Linked DNA regions of Homo sapiens: region 1 is linked to region 2. A link means that fine-mapping ties the variant in region 2 to the expression of a gene that starts in the linked region. Tissue or cell type: whole blood. Region 2 holds a variant in brackets; the other region holds the start of a gene. All regions are shown on one strand. Distances are from middle to middle.

Region 1 (8,185 bases), 21 kb after region 2:
GACCAGGCACAGTGGCTTGTAATCCCAGAACCTTGGGAGGCTGAGGCGGGAGGATCGCTTGAGATCAGGAGTTCGAGACCAGCCTAGGCAACATAGGGAGACCACCCCCCGATCTCGACAAAAAAGAGAAATTAGGTGGGCATAGTGGTGAGTTCCTGTAGTCCCAGAGCCTTGGGAAGCTGAGGCAGGAGGATCGCTTGAGGCCAGGAGTTCGAGACCAGCCTAGGCAACATAGGGAGACCCCATCTTGACAAAAAAGAGAAACTAGGTGGGCATAGTGGTGAGTTCCTGTAGTCCCAGCTGCTCAGGAGGCTGAGGCTTAGGCAAGAGGATCGTTTGAGCCCAGCCTGGGTGACAAAGCAAGGCTCTATCTCTAAAAAAGAAAAATGGAAAAAATCCAAAGGATATCTAAGCAAATACTGAAAAGTATCTCCCTCCATATCTATCTCCAGCCACCCAGTTTCTCACTCTGGAAGCAACCAGTATTGCCAACTTATTGTCTACCTGCAGACAAGAAACGTATAATTACAGTTTATAGGGCATATATGTGTCATAAACCGAAATATGTAAAAATATGGTATAGTTTCTAGAAGAGGAGAAACAGAGGGGAGAAAACTCTATTAGAGAAAATGTTGAGTTGCTGATTTCCTTGTCCCACGCAATGGAGAGCGAGGAGACACTGTCCATGGAACTAGGTAACATTTAGAGCAGTGGTTCTCAGGGGGAGGCAGTTTTGCCTCCCAGGGGATATTTGCCCATTCCTGAAGACATTTTTGGTTGTCGTAGCTTGCAGATGGGGTGGGGTTGGGGTGTCCTCCTGGTATCTAATAGATAGAAGCCGGACATACTGCTAAACACCCTACAATGCACAGAGCAGTCCCCCCAGCTCCCCACAACAGGCAGTTGTCTGGCCCCAAATGACAGTACTGCCAAGGTTGAGAAATCCTGACTTATAGCTACAAAAGAATCAAAATCACTGCTTTGACTTCTTGCCAGGAGCTCGTTTGGCGCAGCTCCACAATGATTGGCAGGCAGAACCGCACGATCCAGGTGTTCCTAGAGTCAAATGCTGCCAGGTACTGCCCTTTCACCCCAGTAATGACAGCTCTTGGGGCAAACCAAACTGTCTTCTTGGAAACCACCACCCTCCTCCTCTCATTTCCTCTGATCATACAATTTATAACTCAGGTCTCTTCCACAGGAGAAAATTCCATTTCTCCATTGGAAAGCCACTGTTTTGCATTTAGTGCTAATACATCAAAGATTGGGGCTGGGTGCAGTGGCTCATGCCTGTAATCCCAACACCTTGGGAAGCCAAGGTGGGATGATCACTTGAGCCCAGTAGTTTGAGACAAGCCTGGGCAACGTAGAGAGACCCCATATCTATAAAAATTTAAAATGTTAGCCAAATGTGGTGGTACATACCTGTAGTCTCACCTCCTTGGGAGGCTGAGTGAGGCAGGAGGATTGCTTGAGCCCAACAGTCAGAGGCTGCAGTGAGCTATGATTGCACCACTGCATTCCAGCCTTGGTTGACAAAGCAAGAGCCTGTCTCAAAGGAAAAAAAAAAAAAAGAGGAACGGTAACTATAGACCCCAATACTTTCTGTGAATTATAGAACTAGGACATTCTTTTTTTCTTTTAAATGATACTCCCCCAAATGCAAATGCCATAGGAAACAGATTTTGTTTGTTCTGGTATTTGTAAAAATACAGAAATTTGATCCAGCCCTCAATTGTCTACCTCCTTCTTTATTTCTGTATGAATATAAAATCTCCTTCTCAGAGAAAACCCTTTGTGATGGATTAGCATCCCATCTGCTGGGGTTTATCCCTGGGAATGTGAGTCTTAGGTGGCTAGAAATAATCTTAGTCCAAACTTTCTCAAATGTTAACTGATGTAGCCCTTATCAACACTAGGAGGAGGGAGTGTATATAGTTCCCACTTTGTAGGTTAATGGGGAGGAAATTGAGGCTCAGAGGAGTTGAGACATTACAGTCTTAGAGTGCCAGAGTCAGCATTTGAATTCGAGTCAACTGTCTTGAAATGTGGGCTGGTTTTATACTGCCTGTCCTTTGTTTCCAGAAGGGACATGCCATTGGTGATCATAACTACAGAGTTAAACCTGTATGGTCCGCATGTTGCCAAAGGGGATGTATCTATAGAAAAATGTGGCCAGGCGGCCAGATGCAGTGGCTCATGCCTGTAATCCCAGCATTTTGGCAGGCCGAGACAGGTGGATTACCTGAGGTCAGGAGTTCAAGACCAGCCTGGCCAACATGGTGAAACCCCATCTCTACTAAAAATACAAAAATTAGCCAGGTGTAGTGGCAGACACCTGTAATCCCAGCTACTCGGGAGGCTGAGGCAGGAGAATCACTTGAACCTGGGAGGCGGAGGTTGCAGTGAGCCCAGATGGCGCCATTGCACTCCAGCCTGGGCGACAGAGCAAGACTCAGTCTTCAAAAAAAAAAAAAAAAAAAAGAAGAAAAGAAAAACGTGTCCAGGCCAGGTGCAGTGGCTTACGCCTGTAATCTCAGCAGTTTTGGAGACCGAGATGGGTGGATCACTTGAGCTCAGGAGTTCAAGACCAGCCTGGGCAACACGACAGAACCCCAGCTCTTCAAAAAATACAAAAATTAGTCAGGCATGATGGCTTGCACCTGTGGTCCCAGCTGCTTGGGAGGCTGAGGCAGGAGGATCCCTTGAGTCCAGGAGGCGGAGGTTGCAGTGAGCTGAGATTGTGGCACTGCACTCCAGCCGAGGTGACAGAGGGCAACGCTGTCTCAAAAAAAAAAAAAAAAAAAAAAGGAGCCAGTGCCCGGGGGTGTCTAGTGGAGCATCACGTTCCATTCTTTGTTGGATTAATGAATTCAGGTAGTCTCTTCCCACACCACCTCACACTCTAGGGTTAAAAAAAAAACACAAAACGAATCTATTTACTTCCTTATGGTGTCCAAGAAATAAAATAACCTCTAGAAAGGACTTTGATATTTTCATTGAGCTGATAACAAAAGAATATTAATGAGAGGGAGGAGTTAGGGCTTAGGAAGAAGGAAATGCACAACTTGGGACCTGAGTTAGGCCTTCATCGTCGCGGACTCAGTAGACAGAGGCCATAGGTGCAGCTGTGATGGTAGAGGTGGAAGACTGATTTGCATTTTCACCAGGTGAGACCTGGTTACTCATTGGTTGATGAGGAAAGAGATGATAGCCAGGGCGGCATAAAACGGCAATGAGCTCAGTAAACAACCCCCTTCCCGTGATCTTCGTGGCTTCCCGCCCAGACGTGTGACCAAGATAGCAAGGAGCAGTCTTTAAGGCGACACGGCAGAGAGGCAGAAAAAGATGGGCCTTACCGGTTAGTTAAGAAAAAAAGAGGACCTGTTGCCTGTCCCTCTAGCTTTGAACTACAAAGTGGAGGGGAAGTTTGTCTGGATTTTCCTGTAGAACTGAGGGCAGGTAAGTGAAAGTGCTTTGAAGGAGGGGTGGGAGGTCATGGGAATAATGCGGAATGCTTGGGAACGTGTCAGCGAAGGAGGACGGAAACTGAGGCTGTCGTATTGCTTATTGCCAGACGAGGGTACAGAATTGAGGCACAACAGATGTTTGTTAGAGGAAAGAATGACCAGGGGAAATGGGAGGCAAGAGAGTGTTGATTATGAGAACAAGCCCTAGGGTTATCTGCTTGAGTTGGAATCTGGGCTTCCCCAGGTCTAACTGTGGGATTCTGGGTCAGTTATTGTATGTTTCTGGCCTTGGTTTCCTTGTCTGTAGAATGGGTAGTATGCCAAAAGCTCCCACTTCCACAGGTGGATATCAGAGCTAATAAAATACGGTGCACGACAAACACGCAATAAATGTGACCTCTATGTCTGGGGGTGTCTCCTGGAGCATCATGTTCTAGAAGAATGCTTTGTTGGATGAGTGAATTCAGGTGGTCTCTCCCAATGGTATTTCATTTTCTGAGATTTAAAAAAAAATCTATTTACTTCTTTATGGTGTTCAAGAAACAATAACTTCTCATTTTTCTCATTCTTCTCATCCTTCTCATTTTTCTCATCCTTCTCTTCTTCCTCTGATAAGTGATTTTTGTGTTTTTTTTTTTTTTTTTCGAGACAATATCTCACTCTGTTGCCCAGGCTGGAGTACAGTGGTGAAATCATAGCTCACTGCAGCCTTGATCTCCTGGGCTCAAGCAATCCTCCTGCTTCAGCCTTCTGAGTAGCTGAGACTATAGGCACATGCCACCATGCCCGCCTACCTTTTATGATTTTTAGTAGAGACAAGGTCTGACTATATTGCCTAGGATGGTCTCAAACTCCTAAGCTCAAGCGATCCTTCTGCCTCAGCCTGCCAAAGTGCTGGCATTACAGGCATGAGCCACCATGCACTGCCAACAATGATGTTGTTGATGATGATGATCCAAGCCCAGCGTATGCAATCAGAGAGGTATGGGTTTGAATCCCATTCTGCCTCTGTTTAGCTGTGTGACCTTGAGTGAGTTACTTAACCTCTCTGGGTCTCAATGTAATCATAAAATGGGGATAATAATACCTCCCCATAAAGTTGTTTGAGCATTCAGTTGCTGATACATGTGAAGGGCATAGCCCTGTGCCTGGCATGCATGTCAGCACTCAATAAATAGTGCTGTCTTCATGCTTATTACTGTTGTTGTTATTATTATTAACTTATTATTATTGTTATTGTTTGACTAGATTCTTTCTACACTAGAGAGGGGAAAAGAAGCTCAGTGGAAATGAATGTGTTGGTTTTTTTTTTTTTTTTTTTTTTTTTTTTGAGACAGTGTCTTGCTCTGTCGCTCAGGCTGGAGTGCAGTGGTGCGATCTCGGCGCATTGCAAGCTCCGCCTCCCAGGTTCACGCCATTCTCCTGCCTCAGCCTCCGGAGTAGCTGGGACTACGGGCGCCTGCCACCATGCCCGGCTAATTTTTTGTATTTTTAGGAGAGACGGGGTTTCACCGTGTTAGCCAGGATGGTCTGAATCTCCTGACCTCGTGATCCATCCGCCTCGGCCTCCCAAAGTGCTGGGATTACAGGCGTGAGCCACCGCGCCGGGCCACTAATGTTAAAAGTAGGGTTTATTGTCATACTTTGCCAGAAAAGGTCCTGTCCCCAGAAGACAGGGTCAAGTTCAAGCTATAGAGTATCTTCATAAACACTTAATGAATAACGCAATGAATCATATTTGCCAAGATTTTTCGGGATGACGTGGCAGGAGGTGACGCTATTATTGCTCAGGTTATTTCTAGTCACCCAACGTTCATCATTCCCAGAGATAAATCACAGCAGCTAGAATGCTAATCATCAGTTATGGTCATTTCTGCGAAGGCATTCATAGGGAAAGGAATATTTATAGGGAGTGTAGTGGTGTGATCATAGCTCATTGCAGCCTTGAACTTCTGGGCTTGAGTGATCCTCCTGCCTTAGCCTCCTAAGTAGCTGGGACTACAGGCGTGCACCACCATTAATGATTAAAAATCAACTAATTTTAGGCCAGGTGTGGTGGGTCACGTCTGTAATCCCAGCACTTTGGGAGGCCAAGGAGGGCAGATCACGAGATTAGGAGATCAAGACCATCCTGGCCAACATGGTGAAACCCTGTCTCTACTAAAACACAAAAAAAAATTAGCCAGGCATGGTGGCACACACCTGTAGTCTCAGCTACTGGAGAGGCTGAAGCAAGGGAATCACTGGAACCCACGTGGCGGAGGTTGCAGTGAGCTGAGATCATGCCACTGCACTCCAGCCTGGCAACAGAGCAAGACTCCGTCTCAAAAAAAAAAATAAAAAAAATTAAAAATCAACTAATTTTAAAATTTTCTGTAGAGACAGAGTTTCACTCTGTCCCCCAGGCTGGAGTGCAGTGGCATGATCATAGTGCACTGCAGCCTCAACTCCCTTGTTTCAAGTCATCATCCAGGCTCAGCCTCCTGGGTAGCTGGGACTAACGGCTGCATGCCACTGTGCTCAGCTAATTTTTAAAATTTTTTGTAGAGCCAGGGTCTTGCTATGTCACCTAAGCTGGTCTCCAACTCCTGGTTTCAAGCAATCCTCCTGCCTCAGCCTCCCAAAGCCCCAGGATTACAGGATTGAGCCATCTCGCCTGTCTGAACATAGGTATAATTTAAAAGAAAAAAAGACAGTCCTGTGTTTAGAATTCACCAGAAGAATTGGAAGCCCATAGTTACAGTTCCCAGCCTTTGATGTGTTAGCACCCACATCCAAAGCAAAATAGTGGCTTTCCAAAGGAGAAATGGAATTTTATCCTGTGTCAGAGACTTGAGTTATAAATTACACGATCAGAGGAAAGGACTTAAAATGAGAGGAGGTGAGTGGAGATCTCCAAGAAAATGGTTTAGGTCACCCCAAGAATTGTCATTCCTGAGGTGAGATAACAGGACCTGGCAGTATGAGACTCATGGACACCTGGATCGCAAGGTTGTGTCTGTCAGTCAGTGTGGCACTGAGAAAGATCAGAGCTGGAGCCAAAAGCACAAAGCAGTAATTGTGATCCTGTCTGTTTTGAACATGTTGATTTTTTTTTCATCATGGGTTTTTTGCACTTATTTTTATTTTTAAAAGTATCATGTTAAAATATTATTTATTTTGATGATATGGTGTGTCCCCACCCAAATCTCATCTTGAATTATAGCTCCCATAATCCCCACATGTCATGAGAGGGACGCTGTGGGAGGTAATTGAGTCATAGGGGTGGGTTTTTCCCATGCTGTTCTCATGGGAACACGAGATCTGACGGTTTTATAAAGGGCAGTTCCCCTGCACACACGCTCTTGCCTGCCGCCATGTAAGATGTGCCTTTGCTCCTCCTTTGCCTTCTGCCATGATTGTGAGACCTCCCCAGCCATGTGGAACTGTGAGTCCATTAAACCTCTTTTTCTTTATAAATTACCTAGTCTCAGGTATGAAAATGGACGATACACTTGATTACTGGGATTTTTGGCCCCCTTTAAATTTGCACCTCAGCTCAGCACTTATCTTACTCCCTCACCCTAGTCCTGGCCCTGCTGCAAACAGCATTGAATCTAGAAACTTCCCAAGCTTGATGTCATACTTACCCAGCATGGGAGAAAAGGTAGCAGAATTCAAGAGGTGAATGTGGAACAAATCAGAGTTGAAAAAAGAAAATTTGAGCCAGGTGTGGTTGGCATACACCTATAGTCACAGCTACTCAGGAGGCTGAGGCAGGAGGATGGCTTGGGCCTAGGAGGTTGCATCACTGCACTCTGGCCTGGATAACAGAGTGAGACTCCATCTCTTAAAAAAGAGAGAGAGAGGGCCGGGCGCGGTGGCTCACGCCTGTAATCCCAGTACTTTGGAAGGCCGAGGTGGGCGGATCACGAGGTCAGGAGATCAAGACCATCCTGGCCAACATGGTGAAACCCCGTCTCTATTAAAAATACAAAAAAATTAGCTGGGCATGGTGGCACATGCCTGTAGTCCCAACTGCTCAGGAGGCTGAGGCAGGAGAATTGCTTGAACCTGGGAGGTGGAGGTTGCAGTGAGCCAAGATCACACCACTATACTCCAGCCCGGGCAACAGAGCTAGACTCCATTTCAAAAAAAAAAAAGAGAGAGAGAGAGAAGACAGAATTTGCTATGACTCAAAGATATTTAAAGGGGGGGAAAAGAGAGAGAGAAAGAATTTGCTTTTCTGCTTCCCTGAATGGGGTGAAAAGAGGGACATTTAGGATACTGTATTTCAAAGGAAACTCCAATGCCCTGCTTCCAAACCACTTTCCAGGTGTCTCCGTTTACTTAGGGACCTGGATTGCTCGAGAACCTCCATAATCATATGTTTGCATTTTTAAGTACTTACTTAATTTATCTTTTTTATTTGGAAATCACATTTTTTATTTTCAAAACATTGTAAGCAGCTGGGTATGGTGGCTCACGTCTGTTGTAGCCCAAGCACTTCGGGAGGCCAAGGTGGGAGGATCTCTTGAGCCCAGGCATTAGAAATCAGCCTGGGTGCAACAATGTCTCTACAAAAAAAATTTAAAAATAGGCCGGGCCCAGTGGCTCACCCCTGTCATCCCAGCACTTTGGGGGGCCGAGGTGGGTGGATCATGAGGTCAGGCCTGGCCAACATGGTGAAACCCCATCTCTAATAAAACTACAAAAAAATTAGCTGGGCGTAGTGG
Region 2 (8,185 bases):
TGCTGCTGAGTGGTTATGCTCTTGGGGCATAAAGACATGAAAGCAATAAGGAGACTTTTCTCCCCAGAGGCTGCCCATGGCTTCCCATGGGTGTCTCACACAGGGGAGACCAACTCAACTGGCACCCCAGAAACACTTTCCCACATGTTCCCCTTTTTTGCCTCTATTGATTTTTTTTTATTAATAACTGCCATTGCTATTATGGCTCATTCATGGTGTCTGGTTTCTCTCCCAAGGCACCATCTGCATCTGTAGACTAAAAACAAGCAACATAAACAGACACAAACCAAAATAAAATTTGCAATTGTTGATCCACCTATGGTTTCAATCCACTTTAAAGGATTGGTATTAGAAAGGCCATCAGAGGCTCCAGCAAGAATATCAGCTCCAGGCAATAGGGTGAGATGAGCCTGAGATGCCTCAAAAACTTGTTTTTTCAGTTTAGCAATATCTAATGTTAAATTATCTTTTTTTCCTTGTAGGTGACGTCTAATCGTCTCTCACTGGTGTTCAATGGCATTATAAGAGCTAGGAGTAAAACAAAAATCGGAAGTATTCCAGTCACATTGTTTTTGAATTCTATGCTCCAAGCTCATAATCCAATCTCCCATCCAAATTACTGTTTGACAGAGATCATTAATTTGATTTGCCAATTTTTGACCTATTTGGCTTTGGGAATTCCAAAGCTTAGAAGAATTTTTCTGCCAACTATCCACAAAGCCCGCTGTTTGAATAGAAGAGTGCAAAGCAACACCAGCAGCAGCAGCAGTAGCTGTGACAGCTATAAGGCCCATGATCACAGCTATTAAAGTAAATATGAATCTCTTTGATCTATTAAGTATTCCTTTTAGTACTTCCGTGATAATATGTATGGAGGGAGAGGCCTCCCAAGGTCTATTGAGGGAAACAGTTATTCAAACTCCTTGGGCCCTAACCGGTAAAATGCTATTATCTTTATTAAAGGTAGAATTAATGCAGGTAAAAAGATGACAGTTGAGGCATGATATGGTTTGAGAGTCAGTTAGGATATTAATTTTTCCCACTGCCAACATAAAAGGAGGTTTAACAAAACTCTGCAATGGGAATGTCTGATTAGAGGTCATGGCTACGACAAATCAAAGTTTTTTTTACTAAGGGTCTTTGTTTTATATTCTCCTTTCCAAATCCGAATTGGGGTTTGAGCCATCATTAATTTCCACAATTCTAGATGTTCTGGACTTATAATTGGATCAATCATTTTTGGGCTTGAAAGAGCCATACCGTTCTCCTCCCACTTAATAGGTTAATTTGTTTTAATTCTTCTATATAATTTTGGTGCATTATCTGGGTAGTTGTTTGCAAAAGGAGTCTCTCTACCATCTTCGCACTGTCCAGTACAATTTACTGCAAAGCGTCCCATAGGGGCCCAATCAATGACGATTCCATAGGAATTACTTTGCAGTACAGCAGTGCTGTTTGCAATACAATCTTCCCAGGTTAGCACCTCTAGCTTTCCAGACCATTTAGTGGCCTTCCTAGGGCAGGGCTTCTTATTAGGTTTATATTTATTAATCTGGCGATGTGTCATAACATAGCCGTGCTCAAGGTATTTAATAGTGTCCAAAGATTGAAATGTTCTTCCACTGATTGCATGAATAGGGGCTTTTGATCCATTATTTGCAGGGACACAAGTCATCCAACTTTGTTTATCATAATTTAAACATCCTGCTGCCGGCCCCAGGCAGATGGAAGGAAAGTGATAACCAATGGAAACATTCATTAACATTCCTTCCTCCTCTGGATGAGTAGGGCCTCGGTTATCTATTGGTCCAGGCATCCAGATACTATCATTAACATGGGGTCTAACCATGTAACAGGCCTAATCAGTGGTGGGAATGGAATGTAGGCCCAGTAAGTGTAATTTTGATCTGCCTCAGCTATGGGGAGACTCACTGCAGGGAGATTACCACCATCATAGCTACCATTAGATTACTGGTGGTCAGCAGCTTGTTCAGAGACCTCAGGTTCTCTTCTGCAATGTGAGCTAGGCTCTTCACCTGCCCCCAGGTCAGTGGAGTTGCTTGGCGAGTTTTACTGGTTTCCATCTGCTCAACAGAGATGTTCATCTGAGCCATCTGATGAACTGGGGGTGCAGGGATGTTCCGAGGTCTTTTCCTCTTCCTTGGATTCTGGCTCATGGCACAGCTTAAGATGTCTTGTGGGCACCCAGACAGGAAGCTGATTCTCTTCTGGTGAGATACAAGAAAACCCTTGACCCCATGTAATGATTTTGCCCTTTTCCCAGGTTTTGGTTCTGATGTCCTTCCACCACACATGTTTTCCTTCATAAGCATTTATTTTTTGCCTTGTCAAATGCTGCTCTGCTGCCATTGTAACGTGATCTCTAGACAAATTCAGAAAATGTGAAGTGATAAGAGCCAATTGTAGCTGCATATAAGGAGTAGCGTATTCTCTGGTTTCCCCCTCTGTCTTTTGTTTTTGTAATTGAGATTTTAAGGTTCGATTAGCCTGTTCAACAGTGGCTTGACCTTGAGAATTATAGGGTATTCCAGTACTGTGCTCGATGTTCCACTGTTAAAGGAACGCCTGTAAAGATTTACTACAGTAGCCTGGGCCATTGTTTGTTTTAATCTTTTGTGGGATGCCCATGGCAGCGAAACAGGGAAGTAATGTCTTAATATGAGCAGCCGCCTCGCCTGTTTGGCAAGTTGCCCATACAAAATGAGAAAAGGTATCTATAGTAACATGGACGTATGAAAGTTTCCCGAACAAAGGTACATGGGTTAGGTCCTTTTGCAACAACATATTGGGGGTTAATCCCTGTGGGTTAACACCAGTCCTTTCACGTGGCAGTTGTACTACCTGGCACTGAGGGCAATGTTGCACAATGCCCTTTGCCTGTCTCCAAGTAATTTGTTATTTTTGTTTAAGTCCTGCTGCATTAACGTGTTAGGGAGTGAAAATCTTGGACATTAGTAAGCACAGTGGAAATTAATAAATCAGCTTGATCATTAGCCCTTACAAGGGGCCCAGGAAGATTAGTGTGTGCTCAAATGTGTGTAATATAGAAAGGAAAACGGTGATCATGCACTGCCTTTTGTAAAGAAGAAAACAGCTGATAGAGTTGTTCATCCACCAGATATTTAATGAGTGCAGTTTCTATGTGTTGAGTGGCTTGAACAACATAAGCTGAATCAAAGACAATATTTACAG[T/G]TTGCTTAAAGTTTTCGAACACACCTATAACTGCCTGTAATTCAGCCTTCTGTGCCGATTGAAAGTCAGTTTGAATAATTGTGTTTTTAGGTCGTACGTAAGCTGCTTTTCCATTACTAGAGCCATCTGTAAACACAGTCACTGCTCCTTCCAATGGAGCACTACGGGTAATTTTTGGAAGGACCCATGTTAGCTTTAAAAACTGAAAAATTTTGTTTTTTGGATAATGATTGTCAAGAACTCCAATGAAGCCAGCTAAATTTATTTGCCAATTGACCGAATTAACAAAGGCTTGCCAAATCTGATTTTATTCATTGGAATTATAATCTTATCTGGATCTGAGCCACAAAGTTTAACAACTCTAAGGCAAGCTTGCTCAATCAAGATTGCCATCTGATCCAAGTATACTGTGAGTGTTCTAACAGTATTGTGAGGCAGAAAAGACCATTCAACTAAGTCCTCACTCTGAGCTATAACCCCTGTAGGAGAATGGAGAGTAGGGAACACAATGAACTGTAATGGTAAACTTGACTCTATTCTATTAACCTGGGCCTGTTGTATTTTTTCTTCAATTATTTGTAATTCTTTGTCAGCCTCAGGAGTCAGTTATCATTTACTATTGAGAGCAGGGTCTCCTCTTAAAATAGAGAACAGATTAGACATAACATGGTAGGGATTCCCAAAGTAGGTCAAATTCAACTGATATCCCCTAATAATTTTTGAAAATCATTTAGTTTTCAGAGAGTCTTTTCGAATTTGAACCTTTTGGGGTTTAATTGCCCTTTCCTGAACCTGCATTTCCAAATATTGGAAAGGAGTGGCCGTTTGAATTTTATCTGGTGCTATGAGCAATCCAGCATTGGCTAGCACCTCCTGTAAATATGAATAACACTGGATAAGTTGGTCTCGATTTTCAGCCGCACACAATATGTCATCCATATAATGAATGACATATGAATCGGGAAACTGATCTCTCACAGGTTGAACATCCTTCCCCGCAAAAGTTTGACAAATAGTAGGACTATTCAACCTACCCTGCGGCAAGACTTTCCAATGATATCTGGCTGCTGGTTCCTTGTTGTTCATAGCAGGAATAGTAAAAGTAAATTTCTCAAAATTGGACTCTGCTAGAGGAATATTAAAAAAGCAATCCTTCAAATCTATAATTATTAATGGCCAGTCTCTAGGAATCATGGTGGGCGATGGAAGCCCTGGCTGCAGGGCCCCCATCAGCTGGATGACTGCATTGACCGCTCGTAAGTCGGTTAGCATGAACCATCTGCTGGATTTTTTCTTTATTACAAACACTAGCGAATTCCATGGAGGAAATGTGGGCTCAATGTTTCCTTTGTTTAATTGCTCTTTGACTAATTCCTGTAAGGCCCCCAATTTTTCCTGAGAAAGTGGCCCCTGCTCAACCCAAACAGGATTTTGGGTCTTCCATTTTAAGGGAATAGAACTTGGAGACTCAACAGTGACCAGCCCTAAAAATGGTAACCTAATCCTTTTCAGTCATTTTTTACAGTAACTTGTATGGGTTCAATAATGCCAGCCCCCTGTCTTCCTAGGCCTTTTCTGGGAACATAGCCCATGTTTGACATTATTTTTTGACTAGCTTGACCAAACTGGGGAGAAGGGATTGAAATTTCTGTGCCCCATTGCTGAAGCAGATCTCTCCCCCATAAGTTATCAAGAATGGGCATAATTAGAGGTTGTAGTGTGCCTTCCTGTTCTTCTGGACCAAGACATGGTAAGATAAAAGTACTTTGGAAAACTTCTGAAGCAATTCTGACCCCAACAAGACCTACTGGGGCCTTTTGTTTGGGCCAGTTTTTTGGCCATTGATAAAGAGCTATGATCGACACGTCTGCTTCTGTGTCCACCAGACCCTCAAATTGTTTTCCTTGAATAGTAACCATACAAATAGGTCTATTGTCAGAGACTTGATGTACCCAATAGGTAGCATTGCCTGCTGAATTTGTGTTCCAAATCCTCCTGTTCTTTTTTCTGAGCTTTCTCCTAACTTAACATATGGTAAAAGCAACAGTTGAGCTATTCTGTCACCTTGATTAGCACTCCAGGGAACAGTGGAGGAGATAACAATTTGAATTTCTCCCTGGCAATCAGAGTCCACTACTCCAGTATGTACTTGAATTCCCTTTAAGTTTAAGCTGGACCTTCCCAGTATAAGTCCCACCGTGCCATTTCACAATGGGCCATAAACTTCCACTGGGACCTTCCTAGGAGGCTCCCCAGGAAGGAGGGATATGGCTTCGGTACAGCATAAATCTACTGCCCCACTTTTAGCTGTGGAGGGGGACAATTCCTGTACATTCATACAGGGATAGACTGGGCTGAGGACACTCCGTTTGGAGTTGGGGACATCCCATCCTGAATTGGGAATGCCCCATTTTGAATCGGGGCCCAGGGCTGGCCCTTCTGTCCGTTTCCTGGCAAGTTCTGTCTGTCTGCTGTCATCAAACTTTGAATGACATTGATTAGCACAGTCTTTTCCTTTTTTACTTCTAGGAAAGGTACTTGGTTCCCTGCTTTTTCCTCCTGAGTTTTGCCTTTTTTGGCTCTTTGTACACTCTCTTTTTGTATGTCCTATCTGTCCACAATTATAGCAAGATCCAGGGCACACTCATATGTTTTTTGTTACCCTTAGTCCAGCCATTCCTTGAGCAAGGAGGCTGGCCTTATATAAGTGCCTGCCAATGCCATCACAGGCTTTAATGTATACTCTTAAAGTTTTTTCCTCATTTAGATCTGCCTTTCCCTTAATAGGTCTAATTGCTGCCTGACATTCTGTATTAACATTTTCATAAGCAAGTAGCTGGACGATCACTTTCCTGGCATGAGAATCCAAAATAGCCTTTTGAGCCACATCTTGCAAATGAATGATAAAATCTGGATAAGGCTCCCTTCGACCCTGTCAAACTGAGTTAAAAGAAGGATAAGTAGTACCAGGGTAGTGAATTTTTTCCCAGGCTCTTAGGCATATAGTTCTGAGCTGATCAACAGCCTCATCACCCATTACCATCTGTTGATTTAGAGTACCCCATGCCTGTCCACTTCCAAGCAATTGATCAGATGTGATATTAATGAAAGTTTGGGCTTGAGCATTTCTGCATGCCTGATTTATTGCTTCATCCATCCACCAGGTTTTAAATTGGAGAAATTGAGAGGGGGCAGGGTGGATCAGGCTAATGTCTCCCAATCCATAGGTATTAAATGCTGGTTATACGCCACAGATTGTAACAAGGAATGAACATAAGGAGAATTTGGCCCATATTGTCCAACTGCTTGCTTTAAGTCTTTTAATATTTTAAAAGGAAATGGCTCCCAGCACGCTTGAGCATGTTCTCCAGGCTCCTCAGCTGGCGAAATAATTACCAGAAACTGCCAAGCATCCAAATCCCCCATTTCTCATGCCTGGCAAATGGATGCCTGGATTATCCCTGCGCCATAATATGTATTTGGGCCGGTTCACAGCATTCCTCTACCATAATTAACAGGTGGACCAACCTGGATCATTCCCTCACTGTAATTGGCTGTTGGGCAAGACTGAAGCTTCCCTTTGCCATAGTTAATGGTGGGGCGTGCAACAATGGGAGTGGCAAGCTGCGTCTCAGGCTCTCGTTACAAAAATTCATAAGGCTGAGGCAGGGGTGGCCGTTCCGGACCTTCCCCTAAAGGCGCAGTAGGTGGCACTGTTTCTTCAGTAGGTGGAACTGTTTCTTTCATAAGTTTTTGGAGGTTAGCCCATGTAGCTTCCTGTTTCTCCCCCTTTTTTAAACTAGACTGTGATGGTTCACTTTGCTGATCATCAGACTCATGATTATTAAACTTTTGTATGTCATCCTGAAACTCCTCCTCCTCAGTGTAGAAGGGCTCCAGTGCTGTTTTAATTGCTGGCCACACAGACCAAGTGGAGAAGGAAATATCGTAACCCTCTTGTTTTGCTCCTTGTAAGTCTGATCCGACCTTGTCCCAATCTTTTACATTCATGGTTCCATATCCTGGGAACAAAGGAGAATACTTTTCTATGAGATGGAACAAAGATGTGAGATTTTGGGTACTCACAATTACCCCGCTGTGGCACAATAACTGCTGCACCAGGCTTAAGTAATTTGCAAACTTACTTTCAGCCTGACCCATATTTTCCTGAGGTTACCCTGGAATTCTCCGAGCACCCTACTTACCCGTAGAGCCTGAAGTGAAAACGTACTCGGGCAACCTTTGTCAGTCGTCCTCCACTTTCCACGCTCTGGCGTTTCTTCACTGGATTATTTGTAGAGATTATGGGGAGCCCCACGTTGGGTGCCAGATGTTGGGGAAACCAGCCCCACACCACCCAGTGGGTACCCCAAGTCTGACAGACACAAAGGAGTTAGAAAGAGACAGAATAAGCATTTAAAAGGCGGGTTCAGGGGACCAGAGCATCAGAGGCTTGCTCACGGCCCAGAGCTCTTGGGCTTCACGCAATTTATTGGCTTACAAGCTCTTTGTTCTTAGGGCAGATGGGAGGGGGAGGAAGGGATGAGGAACAGGATTAATCAGTGAAGGAGAACTCGTGAGTCATTCGATAAGATGTGTAGCAGTGGTGGTTTCTGTGAATTTCCTTGAGCAAAGATGTGTGTCTAAACTACTTAAGATCTTTAACTTACCAGGACTGAAACAGGTGGAAGTGGGTTTCAGGAGGAGCCAAGATGTTTGATTATACTCCATTGCTTCAAGGGAGTGTAATCTCCCTGACCAACCTGTGGAATGCCGCTGAGTGGTTATGCTCCCAGGGCATAAAGACATGAAGGCAATAAGGAGACTTTTCTCCTTAGAGGCTGCCCATGGCTTCCCATGGGTGTCTCACACAGAGGAGACCAACTCAACTGGCAACCCAGAAACTCTCTTTCCCACAGGGAAATTGTGGAAGAGCAGGTTAGAAGAGTAACCCTCAGGGGTCGATTTTAGT

What was found. PIP is the estimated chance that this variant, and not a neighbour inherited with it, causes the effect.
Region 1: TMC5 starts here. The variant in region 2 is fine-mapped to the expression of TMC5 in whole blood (TOPMed, PIP 0.96).

The regions. Positions count from the first base shown.
Region 1 is chr16:19,414,631-19,422,815 of GRCh38, forward strand. TMC5 (transmembrane channel like 5) reads left to right here and starts at 3,253. Exons shown (of 22, transcript NM_001261841.2): 1 at 3,253-3,462.
Region 2 is chr16:19,394,022-19,402,206 of GRCh38, forward strand. No RefSeq gene overlaps it. Among named protein-coding and RNA genes, the nearest start is that of TMC5, 20 kb to the right of the region's middle. RefSeq lists an enhancer at 1-408. The variant T/G (reference allele first, on the strand shown) is at 3,214.